Linked DNA regions of Homo sapiens: region 1 is linked to region 2. The links come from fine-mapping of genetic effects on gene expression. Tissue or cell type: tibial nerve. Region 2 holds a variant in brackets; the other region holds the start of a gene. All regions are shown on one strand. Distances are from middle to middle.

Region 1 (8,102 bases), 220 kb before region 2:
GCTGGTCTTGAACTCTTCCGCTCGGGCAATCCACCCACCTTGGCCTCCCAAAGTGCTAGGATTACAGGTGTGAGCCACTACGCCCGGCCACTATTTTTTATAGTTTTTAAGGTAAAATTTACATTCACTGAAATGTTACCTGCATATTTTTTGATAAGTGAATATACCTATGTAACTCACATCCCTATCAAGATAGAGACCATTTTTACCACCCAGAAATTTCACTCATGTACCATCCCAGTCAATCCCCTGCCACAGGGAACCACTGTTATGATTTTTTTTCACCACAGATTAATTTTCTTTTCTAGAATTTCAAATAAATGGAACAGTATGACACTCTTTTGTGTCATTTATTTATCTTCACATAGATAATTCACATACTTTGTGTCATTTATCTTCACATAGATAATTCACATACTTTAAGATAAAAAAGGTACAATTTTAAACCTTTTGGGCATGCAGTAAAAATCTCCTTCCCACTGGTACCCACCAGTCACCCAGTCTTCCTCTCTCTTTCTCTCTCTTTTTTTTTTTTTTGAGACAAGATCTTTCTCTGTCGCCCAGGCTGGAGTGCAGTGGCACGATCATGGCTCACTTCGGCCTCACCCTTCCAGGCTCAAGCAATCCTCCTGCCTCAGGCTCCCAAGTAGCAGGACTACAGGTGCCTACCACCACACCTGTCTAAATTTTTTTTTGTATTTTTTTTTTGTAAAGATAGGGTTTTGCCATATTGCTCAGGCTAGTCTTAAACTCCTGATCTTAAATGATCCGCCGGCCTCAGCCTTCCAAAGTGTTTAGATTATAGGCGTGAGCCACCGTGCTTGGCTCAGTCTTCCTCTCTTGAAGCAATCAATGTTATTAGTTTTATGTGGGCCATCCCATGTCTTATCATTATTAATTCAGGTGCTTACAAAAGGCTCTTTGAGAACTGTTTTAAAGGTTACCCAAAGAATCTTGTGACAACCCAGCTAAAATGATATAAAATCAGTTTTAACATAACTGAAGTTTTTAGATTCTGATTCCAAATGTCAGATGGTGACATTTTACCTTTCTCTGACTTTATGCCAAATTTAGTTTAAGTTTTAGCATCTATAATTTTCATTTACTGAACAAATATATATTTAACAAATATGAAAATACAACCATGAAACAAACAAAATCAAATCCTGGACTTAAGGAGCTAATAGTAAAAAATTCACCAATATAACTACCCAATTACAGTTTCATGCGATGTGAAAGGAGTAAGAGACCACCATAGGGAGGTCAGAAGATGCTTCTCAGAGGTGGATACTAGAGCCGTTGTCAAAGGATGAGGACTGGGAGAACTTTCTGGGCACAGAGCAAAGCATGAGTAAAAGCTCTGTTGAGGCCAGGAAGCCGGTAAATAGGGAATAAAAGAGGCTAGCGTGGCTGGAGCACAGACAGCAGGGTGGAATTGGTCTGAGCAGTGAGAAGAGGTGGAGAGGTGGGCAAGGCACCTGGCCATTCAGGGCTTGGTTAGTTAGGAGGGTTTTTTCTAAGAGAATGGGAAAGTGTTTAAGTGGTTTAGGCTGGGAAGTGACAGGGTCACACTGTTATTTTGAAAAAGTCACTCTGCCTGTTGTGTTGAGATTAGAGAGGGGATAAAGGGAATATGGGTAAACCACAAGAAGACTAGGTCAGTAATCCCTCCACCCCCACTCCCCAGGTGAAGGTAGCCTAGACTAGGGTGGTGATGGAGGAAATAGGAGAGGACAGATTCAAGGACCATTTGTAAGGGAAAAACCAATAGAATTTGCTGACGGATGGAATATAAGAGGGGAGAGGTACATTATCAAGGATGTAGCTTAGTTTTCTTATACAAGGATTGAGTTGCAATAAAATTGTTAATTGAAATTTCTTTAAATAATGGCACAACCTAAAGTTATGCAAACATATGCCTCAGATAAAAGTTCAAGTTTTCAAAGTTTTTAGCTGGGTGGAGGGCATGGCTTTACTTCCTATTTCTTGGTATTTCCTAATCTTGTTGAAAAAAAAGTAAGGTTTTTTTTTTTTTTTTTTTCTGAAATGCTTAGTTCAGTGGAAACCCATCTGCGAATTCTGTCTTATAAATTTAAATTTAAAAATAGGGATACTAATTTCTAGACAAATAATTCCGGAGTTTCTTGTGCTGCTAATTATTATAATTTTTGTCCCTTTTTTTTTTTGAGACAGAGTATCGTTCTGTCGCCCAGGCTGGAGTGCAGTGGCGCGATCTTGGCTCACTGCAACCTCCACCTCCGTGGTTCAAGCAATTCCCCTGCCTCAGCCTCCAGAGTAGCTTGGCTGGGAGTACAGGCGCACGCCACGACGCCGGGCTATTTTTTTTTTTTGTATTTTTAGTAGAGACGGGGTTTCACCATGTTGGCCAGATTGGTCTCCAACTCCTGACCTCAGGCAATCCGCCCGCCTCGGCCTCCCAAAGTGTTGGGATTACAGGTGTGAGCCACCGCGCCCGGCTGTCACTTCTAAACATATAATGAAAGTAATCTGTATTGCCTTTTTACTTTTTCTTGCCTGCTTTTCCTGGACCAGAAATTAATAGGCTGTTTCCGTCCCAAACAAAGTACTTTCCTTCTAAGAATGTCTTCGTTGACGCTGGAGGGCTGCCCGGCTGAATCTTACGTATTCGTGCCCATGTTCTGCCCCCTGCAGTAGTCTGCATAAACCCAATGCGAAGACACGTGTAAGAGTACATTACAATTACAAGTGTCATTTACGCGTTGATTATTGTTTTTGCGAGTGCCCTAAGGCCACCTCTGGGGGAGCTCGGGGCTGCCTTCCGAAGCATGCGCGTCAGCACCGCGTGCCAGGGCCCTGAAAGTCAGGCTCCGCGTCGGTGCGGCAGCGCGAGGCCTGCAGTCCTAAGCTCGGGGTCGCTTCGGGCCCCCGAGGGGGTGTGTCTTCTACCGTTTTAACATGGAAGGGGCGGTTCCAGTGGCCGGGGAAGTCGGCGACTTGCAGGACTGAAGGCTGGTGCTTTGAAAGAGAGGCGGAGGGCGAGAGCGATTTCCCCGCCTCCTCTGCACTCCGTCCAATCCCTTCGCCTTCTCCTTTTCTCGGCCGGCCCGCCCGGCCCCTAACCTGCTCCAACCCATTCTGCGGTAGAGGCTGCCGGGTCTCTTTAAGGCCCTCCCGCGCCTGCGCCTTGGGCTCTCCTGACGCGGCCGGGCCGGACCCCGGAGGAACCAGCTGGCCAGCTGGCAAGGGGCTGGCTGCAGTTCCGACAGCGGCGGTGCCGGGAGGGGTAGGTGAGGGTCGCGAGGCGGCCCTGAGCTTCTGAGTGAGCGTGGTGCTTTTGGGAACTCGGGACGGGCGACCCGTGGAGCCAGGAGCGGGGCCGAGGCGCTGAGACGCGGCGGCGCGGCTGCCGGCTGGATGGGAAGTTAATGTTTACGGCGAAGTCTACTCAACGTTTCCAAGGTGAGGGGCGCTGCGCCAGGCCGGGCGGGCCGGGAGGCCGGGCGGGCGGTGAGTCCGTGTTCCGCTGGCGCACAGCTGGGCCGAGGCGCGGCGGGCGGGGGCCGCCGCAAGTTTTGCTGTGGGAGCGGGGCGGGCGCGCCTGGCCCCGCCAGGGCCTAAGTTCCCTGCACTCGCTTCCTCGCCTGTCGCCGCCGCCGCCGCCCGCAGCCCTCCTTCTCGTGGGCGCTGGGGAAGAAACTCGTCGGCGGGTCTAACTGTGGCGTCCCAGGGCGGTGGAGGGACGGAGCAGCTTCGGGGGCACGTCCTCGTAAATCCCGTGGAGGACACTGACCCTGCACCCCACCCTCGAGGCCAGAAGTCGGTTCCCTTTGGGGACCTGAGGGGCGAGAGCACTCGCCCCCCTGACTTGCAAAGTTGGCGTCTTTACTTGGCCTCCGGGATTCTGCGCATGGCGTGTCTCCAGGCTGCTGATGGGCAAGACAGATGTGCCAGGTCCAGAATGAACTTGAGAAGAGTTTGTAGCCATTCCTGAATCACCTTATGACTAGTGGGGCAAGCCTCAAATTAACCTCAGGATTTCCGGTAGGTTGGATTGTGGTGTTGGTGTTTCCACTCAAAAGAGTTGCTGTGATTTCCCTGTGTCTGTCTGTCTGTCTGTCTTTGGGGCTTCTTAGATCATCTCATTTGGCATCCTTTCACCCAAGAGTTAAACCAAGCCTTTTGGAATGGTTTCCTCGCTTTCCTCCTATCTATTGCTGGTAGAGCTGCTTTCGAAAAGAAGTATTTTCTTGAAGTGGTATCTTTTCTTTGGGTTACAGTGTTGAATAATAAACTCCTTTCTTTGCCGAAAGAATGAATTCCAGTGCTTACTGAAGTTAAAGAAAAGTGATCTGCTGGTAGTTTTTAATCTTTGTTCTGAGCTGATGTAAGTAACTTTTTTTGTTTTAAAATTTTGTTAGTAGAATTTCACCAGTGTACCAGAAGCTCTTTTTCTTTTTCTTTTCTTTTCTTTTTTTTTTTTTTTTTTGACAGGGAGTCTCGCTCTGTCGCCAGACTGGAGTGCAGTGGCGACGTTGGTTCACTGCAACCTCCACCTCCTGCGTTTAAGCAATTCTCCTGCCTCAGCCCCGCGAGTAGCTGGGACTACAGGCGCGCGCCACCACTCCCAGCTAATTTTTGTATTTTTAGTAGAGATGAGGTTTCACCATGTTGGCCACGATGGTCTTGATCTCTTGACCTCGTGTTCCACCCGCCTCAGCCTCCCAAAGTGTTGGGGTTACAGGCGTGAGCCACCGTGCCCGGCCTTCTTTTTCTTTTCTTTTCTTTTCTTTTTTTTTTTTTTTTTTTTTTTTAAGGCTGAGTCTCACTCTGTTGCCTAGGCTGGATATATTCTCCTGCCTCAGCCTCCCGAGTAGCTGGGATTACAGGCGTACATCACCACGCCCGGCTAATTTTTTTTTTTTTGTATTTTTAGTAGAAACGGGGTTTCACCGTGTTGGTCAGGCTGGTCTCGAACTCCTGACCTCAAATGATCTGCCCGCCTCGGCCTTCGAAAGTGCTGGGATTACAGGCGTGAGCCAGCGCACCTGGCCCAGGTGGTCTTTTTTCTGTTCTAAAATGATAACTACGATTTCCGAGAACTTTGTGTCAAATAAATCTTAGAACTAAGTTATTGAAGTATAGAGAAAAAGTTCACAATTCTAAATGTGCAGGTGGTCTGGGTGCGGTGGCTCACGCATGTGATCCTAGCATTTTGGGAGGCAGAGGCAGGTGGATCACTTGAGCCCAGGAGTTTGAGACCAGCCAGGGCAACGTGGCAAAACCCCATTTTCTACTAAAAATACAAAAATTAGCTGGGTGTGGTTGTGTGCGCTGGTAGTCCGAGCTACCCAGGAGGCTGAGGTGGGAGGATCACCAAAGCCGGGGAGGTCGAAGTTGCAGTGAGCCTTGATCATGCCACTGCACTCCAGCCTGAGCGGCAGAGTGAGACCGTCTTTCAAAAAAAACAAAAACAAAAAACATCGCAGGTAATGAATTTTTACTAAGTGAACCACCAAAGATCAAGAAATAGGACATTACTAGATTGGAGTATGTACGTAGGAGTGGCATTGTTGGTTTTATAGGTACGTGGGTGATAAAACTCTAGTATTAGAAATTGTTGAACATTTTCCCAAAGTGGTTCTACCAATTAGCAGGGAATGTTCCGGTTACCCCACATCCTTGCTGGTGCTTGTCAGTTGAAATTTTTTTTGCTAGTCTAGTAGAGGTACAGTAATATATCAGTGTGGTTTCATTTTGCATTTTCCTGGTACTGAGGTTGAGTATCTTTTGTTGACCATTTATATTTCCTCTTGTGAAGTGCCTGTTAAGTCTTTTTGCCCAGTTTTCGTTGATATGCTTATTTTTCTCTCATTTATAATGCTTTATTCTGGATATGAGTCCTTTCTAGGATATATATGTATTGCATTTTTATTTTTTTCAGTCTGTATTTTGCCTTTTCAGTCTTTTAATGGTGTTTTTTTTCATGCCTGGAGATTCTTAATTTGTGTGTGTGTGTGTTTTTTGTTTGTTTGTTTTGTAAGATGGAGTCTCACTCTGTTGCCAGGCTAGAGTGCAGTGGCGCGATCTCGGCTCACTGCACCCTCGCCTCCCGGGTTCAAGCAATTCTCCTGCCTCAGCCTACTGAGTAGCTGGGACTATAGGTGTGTGCCACCATGCCCGGCTAATTTTTGTATTTTTAGTAGAGACAGGGCTTCACCATGTTGGCCAGGGTGGTCTTGATTTCTTGACCTCATGATCCATCCACCTCGGCCTCCTAAAGTGCTGGGATTACAGGTGTGAGCCACCGTGCCTGGCCTTTTTTTTTTTTTTTTTTTTTTTTGAGACAGAATCTCACTCTGTTGCCCAGGTTGGAGTGCAGTGGCACGATCACGGCTCACTGCAATCTTGATCTCCCAAGACTCAGGTATTCCTCCTGCCTTAACCCCCAAGTAGCTGGAACTACAGATGAGCACCACCATGCCCAGCTAATTTTTGTATCTTTAGTGGAAATGGGGTTTTGCCATGTTGCATAGGCTGGTCTCGAACTCCTGGGCTCAAGTCATACACCTACACCAGCCTCAGCCTCCCAAAGTGTTGTGATTACAGGCATGAACCACTGCACCCAGCCTGAGATTCTTAATTTTAATGAAGTATACTTTATCAATCTTGTCCTTTATGGTTACTGCTTTTTGTGTCCTATTTAAGAAATCAATGCCTAACCTGAGAATATGAACATATTTTTCTGTGTTGTCTTATAGCAATTTTATTTTACTTTTTGCAAAAAAAATTTTTTTTTTTTTCAGACAGGGTCTGAAGTGCAGTGGTGCAGTCTCAGAACACTGCAACCTCCGCCTCCTGTGCTCAAGCATTCCTCCCACCTCAGCCTCCTGAGTAGCTGTGACTACGACTACAGGCATATGCCACCATGCCTGGCTAATTTTTGTATGTTTTGTAGAGTCAGGGTTTCAACATATTACCCAGGCTGGTCTCAAACTCTTGGGCTCAAGCAATCTGCCCTCTTCGGCTTCCCAAAGTGCTGGGATTACAGGTGTGAGCCACTGTACCCATCCCCTACTTTTTGCATTTAAGGTATATAATTTAGAGTAAATTCTTGATGAATCGCAGGGGTCAAGATTCACTTTTTAGGCCGGGCGTGGTGGCTCATGCCTGAAATCCCAGCACTTTGGGAGGCCGAGGCGAGCGGATCATGAGGTCAGGAGTTTGAGACCAGCCTAGCCAACATGGCGAAACCCTGTCTCTACTAAAAATACAAAAATTAGCTGGGCGTGGTGGCGGGTGCCTGTAATCCCAGCTACTCAGGAGGCTGAGGCAGGAGAATCGCTTGAACCTAGGAGGCAGAGGTTGCAGTGAGCCGAGATTGTGCCATTGCACTCTAGCCTGGGCGACAGAGTGAGACTCGGTCTCAAAAAAAAAAAAAAAAATTTACTTTTTTTTTTCTTTGAGACAAGGTCTCACTGTATCACCCAGGCTGGAGTGCAGTAACATGATCTCCACCTGCTTTGACCTCCCAAAGTGCTGGGATTTAGGCATGACCCACTGCACCGGGCCAAGATTCACTTTTTTCTATATAGACGTCTGTTTGATCCAGCACCATTTATTGCAAATACCATCCTTGTCCATCTGCACTGTGTGGCACTTTTTTTCATAAATTAGATAACAGTATGGTCAGCTAATTTATGAAATTAGTGTGGGTCTGTTTCTGGATACTTTGTTCTATTTGTATATTTGTCATCCTTGCACTAATATCACTGTATTAATGTAACTTTATAATAAGCTTTGATATGTGGTAATATAAGCTCTCCAACTTTGAGAGGTGGGCAAAGAAAGTGGGCTGTGGGCAGGGGCTGCTTTTCATCAAACACACTTCTGTTTAACCCCTTGGCTTTCAGCCTTGAGCCTTACTTTACTTTTCTTGAGTCTGGAGTCTCACAGGTGTATTAGTCTGTTCTCATGCTGCTATGAAGAATACCCAAGACGGGGTAATTTATAAAGAAAAGAGGTGTAATTGACTTACAGTGCCATATGGCTGGGGAGGCATCAGGAAACTTACAACCATGGTGGAAAGCACCTCTTCACAGGGGAACAGGAGAGCGAATGAA
Region 2 (8,107 bases):
GGCTTGTGGCTAAAAAGCATAAGGTGTATTTTGTATATATTTTAGAAGCCTAGCATATTTGGAATATAGTAATTGTTAAATAAGACAGTTTTGGCTTAGATAACTGTATCTGATATTAGTATGTGTAAATATGCAGTTATGCATTGCTTAACTAGAATATGTTCTGAGAAATTCATACTTAGGCAATGTCATCAGTGTGTGAATCATAGAGTGTGCTTACACAAACCCAGATGGTATAGCCTACTACTCACCTAGGCTATATGGTATAGCCTATTTCTCCTAGGCTACAAACCTATACAACATGTTACTCTACTGAATACTGTAGGCGGTTGTAACACAATGGTCAGAAGTTGTGTATCTAAACATAGAAGAGGTACAGTAAAAATATGATATAAAAGATTTAAAATGGTACACCTGTATAGAGCATGGTACCATGAATGGAGCTTGCAGGACTGAAAGTTGCTTTGGGTGAGTCAGTGAGTGAATGGCCTACATTACTGCACACTACTGTAGACTTTATAAACACAGTACAGTTAATCTATACTGTAAATTTATTTTCTTTTTCTTCAATAATAAATTAACCTTAGCTTAGTGTAACTTTTTCACTTTATAAACTTAATTTTTTTTAACTTTTTGACTCTTATAATAACACTTAGTTTAAATATATTGTATGGCTGTACAAAAATATCTTCTTTCTCTGTGTCTTTATTCTATAAGCTGTTTTTTTAACTCTTTAAACTTTTTTATTAAAAACTTAGGCACATGGCCGAGCGTGGTGGCTCACGCCTGTAAATCCCAGCACTTTGGGAGGCCAAGGCGGGTGGGCGGAACACTTGAGGCCAGGAGTTCAAGACCAGACTGGCCAATGTGGTGAAACCCCGTCTCTAATAAAAATATAAAAATTAGCTAGGCATGGTGGTGTGCGTCTGTAGTCCCAGCTACTCAGAAGGCTGAGGCACGAGAATCGCTTGAACTTGGGAGGTGGAGGTTGCAGTGAGCCGAGATTGTGCCATTGCACCCCAGCCTGGACAGAGGGGCACTCTGCCTCAAAAAAAAAAAAAAAAAAAAAAAAGCAGGCACACACATTATTCTCTGCTTACATAGGGTCAAGATCATCAGGATCACTGTCTTCTACCTCTACATCTTGTCCCACTGGAAGATCTTCAGGGGCAATAGTATTACACATGGAGCTGTCATCTCCTATGAGAACAATGCTTTCTTCTGGAATATCTCTTGTAGGACCAGGCTGAAGCTTACAGTTAATTTTTCTTGTATAAATAAAAAGAATACACTAAAATAATAAAAAATATAGTATGTTAAATACATAAATCTGTAACATAGTCATTTATTATTGTCAATTATTATCCACTGTGCATAATTGTATATGCCATACATTTATACAACTGGCAGCACAGTAGATTTCTTTACACCAGCACCACCACAAACACGAGTAATGTGTTTTACTATGACATTGTACAACTACAATGTCACTAGGCATTACGAATTTCTTATTATAATCTTATGGGACCATCATCATGTATTCATTCCGTCATTGACCAAAACATCATTATGTGGAACATGACTGCATAAGAAAAAATTTTTAAGTCTATAGAAGCTGTAGTTGGGCTTTTATATCTATGCAAATATTAATTACACTAAACCACTTCAGCAGGCCATATTCTAGTAAAAGGTTTTTAAGACAGATTGTCAAAAGAAAGAGAACAAAGCAAAACAAACAAAAAACAGGGAGTTTTTAGGAATAAGTCGATGAAAGGAGTTGAAGAACAAACTAAGGGTAGTTAGAGATACAATTTGGGTAGGGAGGACAGTTAACACAGAACAGCAGTGTTGTTGGAAAGATGCTTGACCCTATAGGAGTGCTACCCACTCTGTCGCTAGAACATTTCTTTTTTTTTTTTTTTTTTTTGCTCGGGCTGGAATGCAGTGGCGCAATCTCAGCTCACTGCAACCTGCGCCTCCCAGGTTCAAGCGATTCTCCTGCCTCAGCCTCCTGAGTAGCTGGGATTACAGGCACACACTACCACACCCGGCTAATCGTTTGTATTTTTAGTAGAGACAGGGTTTCACCATGTTGGCCAGGCTGGTCTTGAATTCCTGACCTCAGGTGATCCACCTGCCTCGGCCTCCTGAAGTGCTGGGATTACAGGCATGAGCCACCGCGCCTGGCCTGTTGCTAGAACAGTTCTATTTGGTACTTCCTGCCAATGATGTTAGTATACAGTATGTAGGATGAAGTTGGAGGGTAGAGTTGACCAGTCAGAGGACTAAGTCAGAGGATGTTCAAGGTCCCTTCTGACTGTGATTTTAAATATGGGAGGAATCTCCACATTGACAAATGCTTTTCACAGCAACCCATTTCTCTCAAGGTAATTGTAAGACACGTTTTAAACCTGCTTTTAAAAAAACCTGTAAATACTTGGATATTACTAAGGTAACTTTTACAGGAATTTCAAAGCTCTCTAAAGTTAGAATGTGTATCTTTCTGCTCCATATGTACTGATATTGAATGATCTTCAAGTTGTATTATTGAGAGATAATAGCAAAGTACAGAGTAGCATACATAGTGTCTGTAGTATGGATAAACGTGTGCATGTATTCATGTGTGTTTGATTATATATGTGTAAAATATCGTGGAAAGACTACACCAAAAAACTGTTAACAATTGTTGTCTCCATGAAAGGAAACTGGGTGATTGGCAACTGTTAAAAGTAAGCCCATACTCTTTTGGTATCAGGAGTTACTCAGTAGTTTCAGTAGATGGCTCCGGATCAGAGCTGCTTAACATTTTAAGCATCAACACATGGCTTCCTAATTATAAATAATCTGGAGACATCAAAAACAATTCTAGTTTCACTGTTTAATAAGTTCTTTATCTAGGCCAGGCATGGTGGCTCACGCTGTAATCTCAGCACTTTGGGAGGCCAAGGTGGGCGGATCACCTGAGGTCAGGGGTTCGAAACCAGCCTGGCCAACATGGCAAAACCCTGTCTCTACTAAAAATACAAAAATTAGCCAGGCGCAGTGCTGGGCACCTGTAATCCCAGCTACTCAGGAGGCTGAGGCAGGAGAATTGCTTGAACCCAGGTGGCAGAGGTTGCAATGAGCCGAAATCGCGCCATTGCACTCCAGCCTGGGTGACAGCGAGAGTCCATCTCAAAAAAAAAAAAAAAAATCTTTATCTGAAAAATAATTTATGTTCGTTTTCAGGTGGTATAAGAAAAAGTGCCTCTCTTCACCAATCTATATCCCTAGAAAATAGTCCCAGTGCTCACCTGAAACAAACTCTTAGGATCAGAAGCAGCTTTTAATCAGCTGTATCTGGGACTTCCAGTCCACATCGAGAGCTAATTAACCAGAGGAGACTCAAAGTTGTCCTCCCCTTTTTAGAGTGATTTGGACAACTTTTTCTTTTTTTTCCCCCCTTTTCTGTTCCCCAAGCAAAAGCAGATTCCCAAGAATGAAAGAATATGGGAAGCTTGCCATCTTCTTGACTAAGTATTGAATCCCTTACGGTATGAATAGAAAATCATCTGCCCTCAAAATAACTAGATAAATTACTTTGAAATTCTAGGGTAATTTTTTCATCAGTAGATCCATTCAATTACTGATTTCTGAGACTCTTTCAAAAGATATATTTTATAAATTATATTTATTATAAACAACCTTTATTAAGCATTTTTAAAGAAATAATCACACCTGAGGTCAGAAGTTTGAGACCAGCCTGACCAGCATGGAGAAACCCTGTGTCTACTAAAAATACAAAATTAGCCAGGCGTGGTGGCACATGCCTGTTAATCCCAGCTACTCTAGAGGCTGAGGCAAGAGAATTGCTTGAACCCGGGAGGCAGAGGTTGCGGTGAGCCGAGATGGCACCGTTGCACTCCATCCAGCCTGGGCAACAAGAACGAAACTCTGTTTCTAAATAAATAAATTAATTAATTAATTAAAGCATAGTTCATTATGAATTGTTTGTCAGAGGTAGTTTGAGAATGGATTTGTTCAGAATTCAGGTGATTAAAGGGTATGTGCCTATGCTTTTCCTATACCTTGAACTATTTGAGTACATGCTGTGAAAAATTGCCTCTTGTTTTTGCTTTGTTGTTTTGTCACAAAACAGAAAGAAGAAGGAAAGCTTCAAGGACAGCTTAACAAGTCTGATTCTAACCAGTATATTGGGGAACTGAAAGATCAGATAGCAGAGCTGAATCATGAGGTAAGTGATAAATTTTGATCTTCACATATTGCTTTCTTCCTTCCTCTGTATTGTAACAACACTTTATTACTGGTTATAAGACTGACACTTTCATGCTGAATATCTTCTGTGAATTATTGGTTATAATTAATAACATTTTTGAAAATTGTCTTTTTAGCAAGGATCTTCTGTTCTAATATTGGGGATTTATTTCCCTTAACCTCATTAGCATGACCTAGAATGATAAATTAATATTTTCATGGCAAATATTTTATTTTTTTATTGTGGTGTAAAAACTCTTGATAGTTTGCATAGATGTCAAAGTTACTTTAACTAAACTAAAATTTTGCTTATACCTATAGAATAGATTTGTGGTATTTACCGTTGCATGCAGAAGGAAGTCTTTTTACTCTTGTCTTCTTTTACC[G/C]CTCATGATGGTATTACTGAGATTGCAAAAAAGGATACTTGCCTAATATCAGTTAACAGATTTCTTAGTATCTGAATGCTTTTTAAACTGGTACTACCTTGAATCTGTGAGATTCAACTCACAAAATTTTCAGTTTTACCAAGTACTATACTGAGTAATTTAAAGTATTTAGTATGTTTTGATTAGAGAGATATGTTAATGTGGCTCGAGGTCAATTTTCTTATCCTTTATTATTTTCTGTTTTAATGATAATATTTGGCTAAACACTAATGGAATACCATCTTTCTTGTTTTGAATTATTTATAAAATAATGTTTATTCACAGTGATGAGATTTGAGAGGGTAGTATAACCTTTATTTGTTTAAAAAGAAGAAGAAAGAGAAATTTTGACCACTAGATGAATTTAAACCTCACAGGAAAAAGTTTAGACGTTACCCTTTCCTGGTATTACACCCTTCAGTTAAAGTCTGTATGTTTTGGGTAATACCTCCTGGAGGTAGTCAGTCTAAGAGTTAATTCTAAATGAAGAAGAAACAAAACATAAACAAAAACAGTAAATCTTAGATGTGGCTCAGTTTAATTTGTTTTGAAATTTGGGGAATCATTCCTGTAAATATCAATTTTCAGCCATGATAACATATGAGGGATTCAGGATCTTACATATAATCTTTACCTATTTGTGTGTATTTATTATAATTTTTTTTTTTAGACGGAGTCTCGCTCTGTCGGCCAGGCTGGAGTGCAGTGGTGCAATCTCTGCTCACTGCAAGCTCCGCCTCCCAGGTTCATGCCATTCTTCTGCCTCAGCCTTCTGAGTAGCTGGGACTACAGGCGCCCGCCACCAGGCTGGCTAATTTTTTGTATTTTTTTAGTAGAGACGGGGTTTCACTGTGTTAGCCAGGATGGTCCTGATCTCCTGACCTCATGATCCGCCCGTCTCAGCCTCCCAAAGTGCTGGGATTACAGGCATGAGCCACTGCACCTGGCCTATTATAATATTTTTAAATCGATAGCCATAGTGTGAAAGAACAAGTTACAATTAAGTGTGTTGTAGAAATCTTTATTCTTTTGAGAACCCCAGGAATTATTTATGTTCAAAAGGTGTTCTCAGAGGAAATTGTGATTAAAATAAAGCAACCTCCCATTTAAAATTTTGATGTCTCATTATAAGGAAGCTTTAATGTTGCTGAAACAAGAAAGTTACGTATAGATTGACTTTATTTCTAAAACTAATGTAAAAGTCAGTCAACAAACATTAACTTTCCCTGTCATATGCTTTGACTAAAAATAATGATATTCTGACCAGGTGTGGGCGCACGCCTATAATCCCAGCACTTTGGGAGGCTGAAGCAGGCAGATCACTTGAGGTCAGGAGTTTGAGACCAGCCCATCCAACATGGTGAAACCCCTATCTCTACTAAAAATACAAAAATTAGCCAGGCATGGTGGTGTGTGCCTGTAACCTAGCTACTGGGGAGGCTGGGGCAGGAGAATCGCTTGAACCTGTGAGGCGGAGGTTGCAGTGAGCTGAGATCATGCCACTGCACTCCAGGCAGCAGAGTGAGACTCTGATAGATAGATAGATAGATAGATAGATAGATAGATAGATAGATAGATAGATAGATAGGATAGATTAGATAGATAGATAGATAGATAGATAGATAGATAGATAGATAGATAGTCAGTCTCATCAGGACTGCCAGAAAATAACTCACATGAAGTTTAACTTTAATGTCAGTTTTTTACGTGTGGCCTAAGAAAGCAGTCTTACCTTATACAAACATGAAAAGAAAATTAATCAACAGAGTAGAATTTTCTACTGTTAAAATTAAAAGCTAGATTGTGCAGATTTAAAGAGTGGAAACCAAACTGCATCTTTTTGAAAAGAAAGGAAAAAAAACCTTTAAAGCATTTTTATTTATTAATACCCTTCCTTGTTGCAGATAGAATTAAGGAAATTTGCAACTGCTACAAAATAATAAACTACAATTTTGGGAGAAAAAGGAAAGAAAAAAACTGTAGAAATATAATATGGAAGCATGAATAAGACCATTATAAAAATGCTTACCATAAAAATATCTCTTTCCTGTAAGTGGGCCTCAGATTTGGCTCTAAGGCTTTTAGCAGCCAACGCAAAAGAAAACCTGGTCACTTAAACATTTCAGAGTGTCTATGTGATGAAAACAGACCAATTAGCTAGAAGAGCCACATCTATTCCTGATACTAAGATTAAATAACAAGTTCTCCACTGCTTCCTCACAAAGGAGACCTAGTGAGTTCCCTGGTTATTATCCTTAACATTTGAATGGCTTCATAATCATGAAAGTTAGATAAAGAACAGAAGCTTTAAAAAAAAAAAAAAGCTTTTGTAGGCTGGGTGCAATGGCTCATGCCTGTAATCCCAGCACTTTGGGAGACCGAGGTTGGAGGGTCACTTTAGCCCAGGAGTTCGAGACCAGCCCGAGCAATATAGGGAGACCCCATCTCTATTAAAAATAATAATAATAAATGCCAGGCCTGGTGGCATGCACCTGTGGCCCCAGCCACTCCAGTGGCCGAGGCAGGAGGATCACTTGAACCCAGGAGGTCAAGGCTGCAGTGAACCGTGATCACTGAAACGTGATCACCACTGCACTCCAGCCTGGGTGTCAAAGCAAGACCCTGTCTCAAAAAAAAAAGAAAAAAAAGTTTTGTATAGCAGCATAGCATACAGAGACGTGTCCAAGTCAAAAGTTTACAGCTCAATAAATTATCACAAAATGATCACACTCATGTAGGTACTACCTAGGTCCAAGAAATAGACCCAAGAGCCCTGTTCATACTCTTTCAACCCGTACTCTCTCCCTTCTACTCAAAGGTAACCATGATCTCAGACTTCTAATACAGTAGTTTAACTTTTTGAACTTTATATAAATGGATTCTTGCAGTATGTTTTCTTTTGTGTCTTGCTTGTTTTGCTCAACATTGTTTGTGAGATTTTACTTTGTCATTTTAAAATGTAGCTGTAGGTTGTTCATTTTCATCACTGTGTAATTTTCCTTTGCATAAATATACCATGATTTATTCATCTACTGTGTTGGTGAACATTTGGATTATTTCCAGTTGGTCTGTTAAGAACATTGCTTTAAGTGATTTATGCCAGTTTATACTGTCTATAAGCAGTGAAGAAAGTTCTTACTGTTCTACATCCTCATCAACATGTGGAATTGTCAGTCTTTCTTATTTTAGCCATTCTGTGACTATGAAGAGATTTCTCATTATGGTTTTAATGTGCATTTCCCTGATTATTAATGAGATTGAGTACTTTTCCCCCAGTATATAGAACAATGATGGCATGTAGTAGGTACTATGTGAAAATGTTTCTAATGAAAAAATGATGTTTGTGAAAGGTTTTGCAGATGAGGTCACATATAAGTTGCATGGGAATGCCAAGAAGCTTTTTTTTTTTTTTTTTTTTTTTTTGAGAG

Which allele goes with the higher level. Positions count from the first base shown, and alleles are read on the strand shown. Sizes are in standard deviations (SD) of each study's normalised expression.
For the expression in tibial nerve of the gene that starts at base 3,169 in region 1, allele G in region 2 goes with a higher level than allele C (small effect, 0.34 SD a copy in GTEx).

Evidence for each region. PIP is the estimated chance that this variant, and not a neighbour inherited with it, causes the effect.
Region 1: it holds the start of EVI5, and the variant in region 2 is fine-mapped to the expression of EVI5 in tibial nerve (GTEx, PIP 0.92).

Annotation. Positions count from the first base shown.
Region 1 is chr1:92,780,175-92,788,276 of GRCh38, reverse strand. It overlaps EVI5 (ecotropic viral integration site 5), which reads left to right and starts at 3,169. Exons shown (of 20, transcript NM_001350197.2): 1 at 3,169-3,441. RefSeq lists an enhancer at 2,769-3,048 and a silencer at 3,319-3,588.
Region 2 is chr1:92,559,769-92,567,875 of GRCh38, reverse strand. It overlaps EVI5 (ecotropic viral integration site 5), which reads left to right. Exons shown (of 20, transcript NM_001350197.2): 19 at 4,139-4,234. Among named protein-coding and RNA genes, the nearest start is that of GFI1, 77 kb to the right of the region's middle. The variant G/C (reference allele first, on the strand shown) is at 4,641.